Linked DNA regions of Homo sapiens: all the other regions are reported to be linked to region 1. Evidence: microRNA targets listed by miRTarBase, many of them from high-throughput screens and not tested one by one. Region 1 holds a microRNA gene; each other region holds the end of a gene's coding sequence.

Region 1 (3,149 bases):
TGAGTGACAGAGCAAAACTCCATCTCAAAAAGAAAAAAAAAAGATAACTTAATGCTTATTACTAACCATTATTTTCTTTGTGTGGTAGTTAAATAAACTTTAAAAAAATCATTTAATTACCACACAAAGAATACCACCAAAACTTTAAAAAGGTTATTTAGGTTATTACCTGCTCCAGACTTTGTGGAGCAGGTAATATGATTTCCGTCTTGCAGGAAAGGAAGTGACATTCAGGCACAGGTTACATACACATTGGAGGTCACAAAGCATAGGTATTAACAGAATGTGGCTCATTCACCCTGTCTTCAGGTGGAAGGTGAAGCTAGTTTGGGGAGTACTGGTTTTTAAATCATATATTAGAGTAGCAAAACGCATGTGAAATGTATCAATGCCTACATTCATCCCTTTAGCAACGTTGACTTTATCTGGTTCTTTAATCAGTTTCCACTAAGAAATGGATAAGGCATAGCTGCTGAAAGTCTTCTTCAGTAGGCTGAGTTGAAGATATTGAGACAGTTTTAGTTCTGGGAGCACAGCATGCTGCCCATCTAGCTCTCCCATTAGCTTTTTCTCCTCCATTTATTTTTATTTTTATTTTTGAGACAGAGTCTCACTCTGTCACCCCGGCTGGAGTGCAGTGGTGTGATCTCCACTCACTGCAACCTCTGCCTCCCAGGTTCAAGCAATTCTCCTGCCTCAGCCTCCCAAGTAGCTGGGATTACAGGTGCCCGCCAGCTCCCCGGCCGATTTTTTTGTATTTTTAGTAGAAATGGGGTTTCATTATGTTGGCCAGGCTGATCTCGAATTCCTGACCTCAGTTGATCCATCCGCCTCAGCCTCCCAAAGTGCTGGGATTACAGGCGTGAGCCACCGTGCCCTGCCCTAATAATGTTTAGTGTGGCAGGTTTGGAACATCATGTATTCTTTCTTTTTAATAAATTCTACTTGTAGATTCAGAGATACATGTACACGGTTGTTACATACCTAGGTAAATTGCATGTTGCTGAGGTTTGGGATATAAATGATCCATCCCATCAACCAGGCAGTGAGCATAGAACCCAGTAGCTAGTTTTCCAAACTTTGTTACCCTCCATTCCTCCCCCATCTCATAGTCCCCAGTTTCTGTTGTTGCCATCTTTGTGTCCATGAGTACTCGGTATTTAGCTCCCACTTAGAAGTGAGAACATGGCTATTTGGCTTTCTGTTCTGCATTAATTCGCTTAGGATAATGGCCTCTAGTTGCATCCATGTTGCTGCAAAGGACATGATGATTTCATTTTTTTTTATGGCGGCATAATCATGCATTCTTTTCATTAGGTACCTCTCTTTGATAATGTAATCCGTTGTGACAACTGTTCAAGTTTTAAGGTGTAGCTTTATTAGCTGATAATGGGGGAAAGGGTTGTTTCAAAGAAGTATATTTGCTTTATCAACATTCTAAGTATTGGAATGATCCAACGATAAGAAAACAATAGACACCCATCGTGTCTTTTGCTCTGCAGTCAGTAAATATTTTTTTGTGAATGTGTAGCAAAAGACAGAATGGTGGTCCATTGAATCCCCAGGATGAAGACATGAGGAGACGTGGGAGGGATGCTATCTGCTGGGAATAGCTATAATAGTCCACTTTAACTTTTCCTTTTCCTCGAAGGAAGTCCATCAGCTGAACCTGGAAAAAGCTGTGTGTCACTAAATCCTGGAAAAAATGCTAAATGGGAAAATCTGGAATGTGTTCAGAAACTGGGCTATATTTGCAAAAAGGGCAACACCACTTTAAATTCTTTTGTTATTCCCTCAGGTAAGTGATCTATGGGATCTGAAGTGCCTCAACTATTAGAATTGAAAGATAAGTAACATTACAGCTTAGGTGTAACTGTTGGAATGCCGCCAGAGGTTTTGTGGATAGTTGATGGGGTAAACTTAATGATATTACTGCAATATTTCTGTGTGCTGGTTGCTAGTATTTCCTGAGTGTGCGGCGGTGTCTGGGCATTGTGGAGATCCTCTGACCTAAATAAAAATGTTACCTTCCCAATCAGTCCTCTGAGGTAGGTGTCATGATTCACATGCTATAGTTGAGGAAAAAGATATTCAGAGGATACAGAAACCTTGCAGACATGGCAAAACCGGAATCCAAGCTAGAAAGTCAACATTTGGAAGGGATGTTTATATTAGGTCCTCACGGCTCTATCTGGGCTTCCTTGCTATTCAGTGTAGCGTCTTATACTAAAGTTTTCATAAAATAGAATAAAATATCTAAAAAGTTGTAACTGAATTTTATTTATTTATTGAGACAGAGTCTCATTCTGTCACCCAGGCTGGAGTACAATGGCGCGATCTCAGCTCACTGCAAACTTCGCCTCCTGGGTTCGTGATTCTCCTGCCTCAGCCTCCCGAGTAGTTGGGATTACAGATGTGTGCCATCACGCCCAGCTAATTTTTGTATTTTTAGCAGAGATGGTGTTTCGCTGTGTTGGCCAGGCTTGTCTTGAACTCCTGACCTTGGGTGATCTACCCACCTCAGCCTCCCAAAGTGCTGGGATTACAGGCATGAGCCACCGTGCCTGGCCTGTAACTGAATTTTAAATATCGGCTAGACTTCAAGAAAAAAAAAAATCAATTGTGTTGTCCCTTACAATTTTATAGGAGAATAAACTACTAAGGCAAGAATTCTTTCTTCCAATTGATGAAAGACAAACTACATATTTTTTATTATTACCTCTTTTTGGAGGGACAGCGAATGCTTTAAATGGTTTAATTTATTTCTGTTTTTCTGCTGGAGGAAACTGACAATGTGGCATTCTTGTTTTTTTCTTCCCATTGGCTTTGAAAGCAATTTCATGTATTTTAAAATACGCTTGACATAGCTAGAGATTCAAAAGATACAACATGATAAATAATAAGGTTTTCCCTACCTCTCACCTGTAACACCCAGTTTACCTTCCTGGAGAATAATTGTTTCTGGGTGTGTATCCTTAGTTATTCTGTGACTATATAAACAAATATATTTATAATTATTTTTGTTTCATACAAATGGCAGTATACTATAATATGTTTTTATCCTAAGTTTTCCACTTAACAACAATTTTGGACATCATTCCACGTAGAATATAAACAGCTTCTATGTTTAATTTTATGGCTGTCCAAAA
Region 2 (3,000 bases), not on the chromosome of region 1:
CCAACACCCATAAGGAAACCAGGCTTTAGGCCCAGGGGAGCAGTGGAGGTAAGGGCTCCACCCCATCTTAAGCTCTGTCTTCCGTGGCACAATTCCAAGTTCTTGACGTTAGTAATTGTTAAAGGAATGGCAAACTGTTTTGTTTTGAAGGATCTTTCTACAGTCTGGTCTTACCCATGTTCCTAGCAACCCTGAGATGATTTTCTTCCATTTACCAAAGCAGCCGGGTCAGTGCTTTCTCACGTTGCCGTATTCTTCAGGTATTAGTCAGCTTCAGAAGCCCTGCTCCCATTTTTCCACCCACCCATTCCCCCATAAAACAGCTTATTGTCTCCAAGACAATAGACATTTAAAATGTGATGCGGGTTTATGATCCAGACCACAATCAGAATTATATCTTGGGTCATTTATGTGCCGTCTGTTCTTGATTCTCTATGCTCTAAATCGGTGTTTTTCAAACTGTGGTTGCAGTCCTTTGGTGGATTATGGCCAGCATTTTTTAAATAGGTAGAATAGAATAAAGTAAAATAGAAAATAGCAGAGTACATTGCTCTCAGTGTAGGTAAGTATTGTTTTGTTAGTCATATGTGCATGTGTGTACTGAGTGCCATGTAAAATGTATTCCTGCTGTGGTAAGCTGTGGTCGAGGAGTTTGAAAGCCATTGCTTTCAAATTCCTCTCAATTATACTGACCCTAGTCAGATGGGTCAGCCTGGGCAAGGGCCCACATTTACATTTCCTTTCTGTAAGGGACAATGGGCAATTATCACTCAGCTCTTGATAGGCAGGGAGGAAGACCAGAGAAGAACATCGACATAGAGAAACAAGAGTTTATTCCAATGGAGAAGCAGCTGAGCCGAGGGCTTGCCATTGGGCCTGGGGTCTGCAGTTACAGAAGCAGCAGGAGGCAGACAAGGAAAGGCACAGCACAAGACCCAGGAAAGTGGACCTTGTGGAGCAAGGCAGTGAGGGCGAGGAAAGCTTTTAGGATTTTGAGACCAGGTGCTATGGCACAAGTGATAAGTGAGCCCTCTCCTTTCCTTCTGAGGGCAGGGGAGGCAGCTGAGAAAGGGCAGGGGAGGCAGCTGAGAAAGGGCAGGCCAGGTGTCACAGGCAGCTCCTTGCATCCCGGTTCTTCTCTAACCCAGTCAACCCCAGGCTCAAGACTGTTTCAGCCCAACGGTCCCAGTTCCCTTGTTCAGGTTAGCTGTACCACTGTCTTTCTCTGCTCCTTTTTTGTTTGTTTTTGGAGACAGGGTCTCACTCCTTCACCCAGGCTGGAGTCCGATGGCACGAACTTGGCTCACTACAACCCCCATCTCCCAGGTTCAAGCAACTCCTATGCCTCAGCCTTCCAAGTAGCTGGGATTACAGGTGTTCACCACCATACCTGGCTAATTTTTGTATTTTTTAGTAGAGATGGGGTTTTGCCATATTACCCAGGCTGGTCTCAAACTCCTGACCTCAAGTGATCCACCCACCTCAGCCTCCCAAAGTGCTGGGATTACAGGCATGAGCCATTGCGCCTGGCCTCTTTCTTTACTCCTAATCCATGATTTGAGAGACTCAAACCAGCCAGAAAGACTCTCAGGGATCTGGCGTCTTAAGGTTCGGGTTCTTCTCTTCACAGTGAATTCAAAAAAGCCTCTGTCTCCTGACAGACCCCAAACTTTAAAAAAAAAAAAAAAGCCTCTGTCTTTTTGCTTTGGCAAAGCCTGGCAGGGGGTTAGAAAGCCACTGATTCCAGGACAATACAAGCTTAAGCTCAAGAGGCCAGAGATGGGGATAGGAAGAAGGCCTAATGAGGTGGATAGTTCTAGAAATCAGAAAGAATGCTGAATAGGTGAAGTCTGAGTGGTGACAACCTCACTGTCCTGTCTGCCTCACAGGAGCAGTTCTCTACAAGGCTCTTCCACACACACACACGCAAGGCTCAGGGGCTCGGTGGGTACAAAAAGCCAGTGGAAACGGATAAATACCTATAGCGTTAATAGCAGAAGTATGTCCAAGGTTTTGCACAGGGTAATCAAACTAACTGGCTTCAGACATTTGCAGCCACAGGAAAAAATAGCTCTCAGCCTTATGAGATGGACATTCCTATACTAACTCCCGCTCTTTGTTGTATTGAATTCTGGCTGTTTCTTCCCCCACTCAACTGTGAGCAGATGTGCACAGACTCCGAGAGGCAGACACCAGGAGGTCCAGGGACATAGGTTGGTGAGGCATGGCGGTCTAGTTGTGGGAGATAATGAGGCCCAGAAGGTGTGGTGAGAGACATGGTGGTGTGGGAAGTTGAGTTGTGTTTGGGGTGGTATTGGGTGATGGACAAGGACAGCAGTCAGCAGAGCCTTCGACCCAGCCCAAGCAGGCACCCCATTGTGCTTAGGTTCCTATCTGTGGTCTTGATTTGGCTTTGCTTTTCTTGGGAGGAAGATGAATCAGAATCCTGGCATCGTGGGCCCTCTAGTGAAAACTCGTCCTGGGGAGTAGGACAGCTGCTGAGAAGCAGAGAGGAATGCGGCCAGCTGGGGAAAATGGGACAGCAGGGGTCAGGGAGGTGATTGGAAGGGCAGACACCATAGTCCCCAGCTACCTGGCTTCAAGAGCCCCCGTTCCCCACACGCCTCTTCTTCTAAGGCAAGGTCTTTCCCTCTGGGGACTGACTGAGACAGCAGTCACTGGCCAGGCTCTTGGTACAAAGGCAGGAAGGGTAGCTCTGAGAACGGGGCTTTCAGCCGCAGCACTCCGTGCTCCAGGTCGATGCAGCACTGCGGGGTGTAGAGCAGTCATGCCAGGTCACCTCAGCCCGCCACCTGCCTCCCGGCCTGCTCCTTTTGTTCCCCCTCCCACTTCCCACAGCTTCCACCTGCCTTTTGCTCTTCCCCCATCCCCATTTCCCTAGACTCCTGTTGAAGGGGGTGACCCAGTTCTCTTGATTTTTCACTTGGTGGTAAGTAAGGAACCTCTAAGGAAGCAAAGGGACAGTTGCCCATCTCTAAG
Region 3 (3,000 bases), not on the chromosome of region 1:
CGGGCCTTTTGGGGCAGTCACCAACGTCAAGGTCATCCGTGATTTCACCACCAACAAGTGCAAGGGTTTCGGCTTCGTGACCATGACCAACTATGACGAGGCGGCCATGGCCATCGCCAGCCTGAACGGCTATCGCCTGGGCGAGCGCGTGCTGCAGGTCTCCTTCAAGACCAGCAAACAGCACAAGGCGTGAGCCCACCCCGCCTGCCCTCCCACCCCCTCCCCGGGCAGCAGAGAGAGAGAGAGAGAAAGAGAGAGAGAGAGAGAGAAGGGGCCCAAGAGAGACAGCACAGGCAGCCCCACGGACGACGCGAGGGCCCCACGTCCCTGCGGAAGCCACAGGGTGAGCACTCTGGGGTGGGAGGGTCTGCAGGGAATTGGGGGGGTGCCCGGGGATCCCCCGCCCCATCCTCCTGCCCCCACCCCAGGCTGGGCTGTTCACTCTCTCGTCTTGGTTTGGTTCATGGTGAAGGTTTTTGTTTCTTTTTTCGGCTAAAAAGAATGCAGAGATGTGCCCCCACCCCCACCCTCGACCACCCCCGATGGGATGGCTTGGGGGGCTCCAGGGGGTGCCCTCCCAGACCCCCTTGCCCAGGCCTCCCCAGCACCTAGGTGGGGCCTGGGGTAGGAGGAACAGGTTTAAAAATCCCCAAAAAAGCGAACCGTGAGGAGGGGTGTGGGCACCCCCGGCCCAGTGCCCCCTGGTGGAATGCGGGGGAGCAGGCAGTGGGGCTGGAAGCAGAAACAAAATGAAAAAAAAAGGGGGGTGGGAGGGGAAGAAAAACTCTATTTTTGTAAAAAGGGAAAAAGACCTCGTGGAGAATTTTTACTGGGGATTCTTGAACTTGAAAAAAAAAAACACAAAAAAAGACAAAAAAAAAAAAAGAAAATATTTTGGCAGGTTATGTTTACCAACTGGGGCGGGGGTGGGGGGGGCCCAGGGAGCAGGGCTTAGGGGCTAGCAGCCCACGGGGCCACACAGAGAAACAACCACGCAGACAGTCACACCACGGGGACACACGGACAGACGCAGACGGACACAGCGACATGCCCCAGACACGTTAAGGGACTGGTTGGCCAAACTCAGACACGTGGACAGGGATAGACAGAAAGAGACAGAAGCTGGGGCTACGTCCATGTGGACACAGACCACAGATGTGGGCACACGAATCCATCCACCTGTCCACGTGCACACGTGAATGTAGCGATAGATATTTGGACATCAAATTTGGACACCAGGTCACGGAGAAACACAAACACCACCCAGGAACACGCAGACATATGCCCATAGCATCCCACAGGCCCAGGCAGGAGGTCCCACCCCAGACCCTGCCCCAGACGCTCCCTCACCCTCTCGGCCCCCTCGCCCTGGCCCCCAGGTTCTCTGCAGAGATCTCTCCTGGACCCCCAGCGGTCTCCTTGGCGCCCACGAACACAGGCGTGCACACGCAGCGCACATGCATTGAGACACACGATACCTCGTTCCACCTTGGCGTCACGGTGGGCTGGAGGCAGCCCCCCCCCCCACAACACTTGAGGCCAAAGGACACCCCTGTCCCCGGGGCTCAGCCTCCCCCTGGGCCGAGGCCTTGGCCCACACAGCTGAGGGAGAGGCCCAGCCCTGAGCCTCCCCCACCAGGACTGGGCCTCCCCGGCAGCAAGACCCCGGCACTCCCCGCCAGGCCCAGGGTGGGGTGGATGGGCCCAAAGGCCCAGCCCCACACTCCTTTCCCGTCCACTTGTCACCTACCTATCCCCTTTCGGTTTGTTGGGTTTTTCGTCTTTCCAGATTGCAGTGGACACAGCCCCCGATCTCGAGCCCCGGCCCCCGGCTTCTGTCTGGACATTGCATCGCCCTAGTTTTCTTTCTTTAAAAAAAAAAAATTCCAACAGAAGCCACAGGCCGGAGCCCCTGGGAGCCCTCGCACCGCTCCCCACCCCACTCAGCGGCCCCATCGGAACTGAGAATTGCAAAACCCCCGACTTTAGCTATAGTTAAGTTGCCTTCCCCCGGTGTCCCCACGTTTGGTGTCTGGCTATGGCGCCCCCATCTGACTGTCCAGCTCTCTCTCCCCCACCCCTCCCGGTGTTGTTATTAAACGTCTGTGGAGCTTCTGCTGCAAGGAACAAAAAAGAAAAAAATCAAAAAAGCGACAAAAAAACACAAACAGAAGAGGAAAAAAAAGCAACAAAAAAAGAAAACACACAGAAGAGATTTAAAAAAAAAAAAGGAAAAAAAAAAAAGACATAAACTGGCACCAGTTAACTTTCTTGTACTTTTTTGCTGAATTTAGCTTCTTGTAGTTTTAACTTATTGCTATGTTAACTATTTATTCTCCTCGTTGCCCTGTAAGGACATCCGTGTATATTTCTGTTACTTCATCCGGTTTGCAAGTTAAAGGAACGACAATGTTCTCTTTGTTTCTTTAAGTTTTGCCGAGACATGGTTATGCCTAATTTATTTATAAAAGGGGAAGTGGAATCATTAAAGTAATAATAATTATTAATAACAGTAATGGTAGCCGAGTGGCACGCGGGGGCGTGTGCTCTGCGGGACAGTCCCCACGGCCAGCGACGTCCAGGTCACCAATGGGATTCTTTTTGCTCTTGTCTTGAGAATTTTTTCAGTCCTATTTAGCTGGTGAAATCCCTAGCTTGTTCTTGATACACGAACCTATTTATTCTCGTGGTTTTAAGTCCTCCCTGCCCTCTCTCCTCTCCCCTGCAGCAGGGCAGGGACCCCTCTCCCCTGCTGTCTCTTGGGGCTCTCTCCCCTCCGCCCTCTGCATTCGGGAACACGCACGTCCGCGTGGGAAGCTTGCAGCAGGGCGTCCGAGCAATAAGGGCTGGGTTTGTCCCCCACCCTGGGGGGGGCCAGGCTCCAGAGAGGGGGCACCTCCCCACACACCCCCCCCCCACCGAGGCCTAGGCCCCTGCCACCCCCAAGACTGGGAGGGGACTTCTTTTTCTAAAACACAAAACTCAGCCCAGCCAGGCCCC

Evidence for each region. The annotated mature microRNA hsa-miR-511-5p reads GUGUCUUUUGCUCUGCAGUCA and lies in region 1 at 1,485-1,505, shown strand. An mRNA with a match to its seed (bases 2 to 7 or 8) in the 3' UTR can be bound and repressed. Matches are read on the target gene's strand: a 7mer-m8 pairs with bases 2 to 8, a 7mer-A1 pairs with bases 2 to 7 and ends in A, and an 8mer does both.
Region 2: miRTarBase lists NRIP2 as a target of hsa-miR-511-5p. Seed matches in the 3' UTR shown: 7mer-m8 at 1,694-1,700 and 7mer-m8 at 1,217-1,223.
Region 3: the mRNA of ELAVL3 is a reported target of hsa-miR-511-5p. Seed matches in the 3' UTR shown: 8mer at 867-874 and 7mer-m8 at 2,242-2,248.

Annotation. Positions count from the first base shown.
Region 1 is chr10:17,843,638-17,846,786 of GRCh38, forward strand. It overlaps MIR511 (microRNA 511), which reads left to right and starts at 1,470; the gene lies at 1,470-1,556. MRC1 (mannose receptor C-type 1) reads left to right here. Exons shown (of 30, transcript NM_002438.4): 6 at 1,652-1,798.
Region 2 is chr12:2,824,532-2,827,531 of GRCh38, forward strand. It overlaps NRIP2 (nuclear receptor interacting protein 2), which reads right to left. Exons shown (of 6, transcript NM_031474.3): 6 at 817-2,768. The coding sequence ends at 2,676. It overlaps ITFG2 (integrin alpha FG-GAP repeat containing 2), which reads left to right. Exons shown (of 12, transcript NM_018463.4): 12 at 1-545. Among named protein-coding and RNA genes, the nearest start is that of NRIP2, 9.0 kb to the right of the region's middle. RefSeq lists a silencer at 592-886.
Region 3 is chr19:11,451,719-11,454,718 of GRCh38, reverse strand. ELAVL3 (ELAV like RNA binding protein 3) reads left to right here. Exons shown (of 7, transcript NM_001420.4): 7 at 1-3,000. The coding sequence ends at 193. Among named protein-coding and RNA genes, the nearest start is that of PRKCSH, 18 kb to the right of the region's middle. RefSeq lists a silencer at 668-849 and enhancers at 1,713-2,483, 2,408-2,527, 2,558-2,607.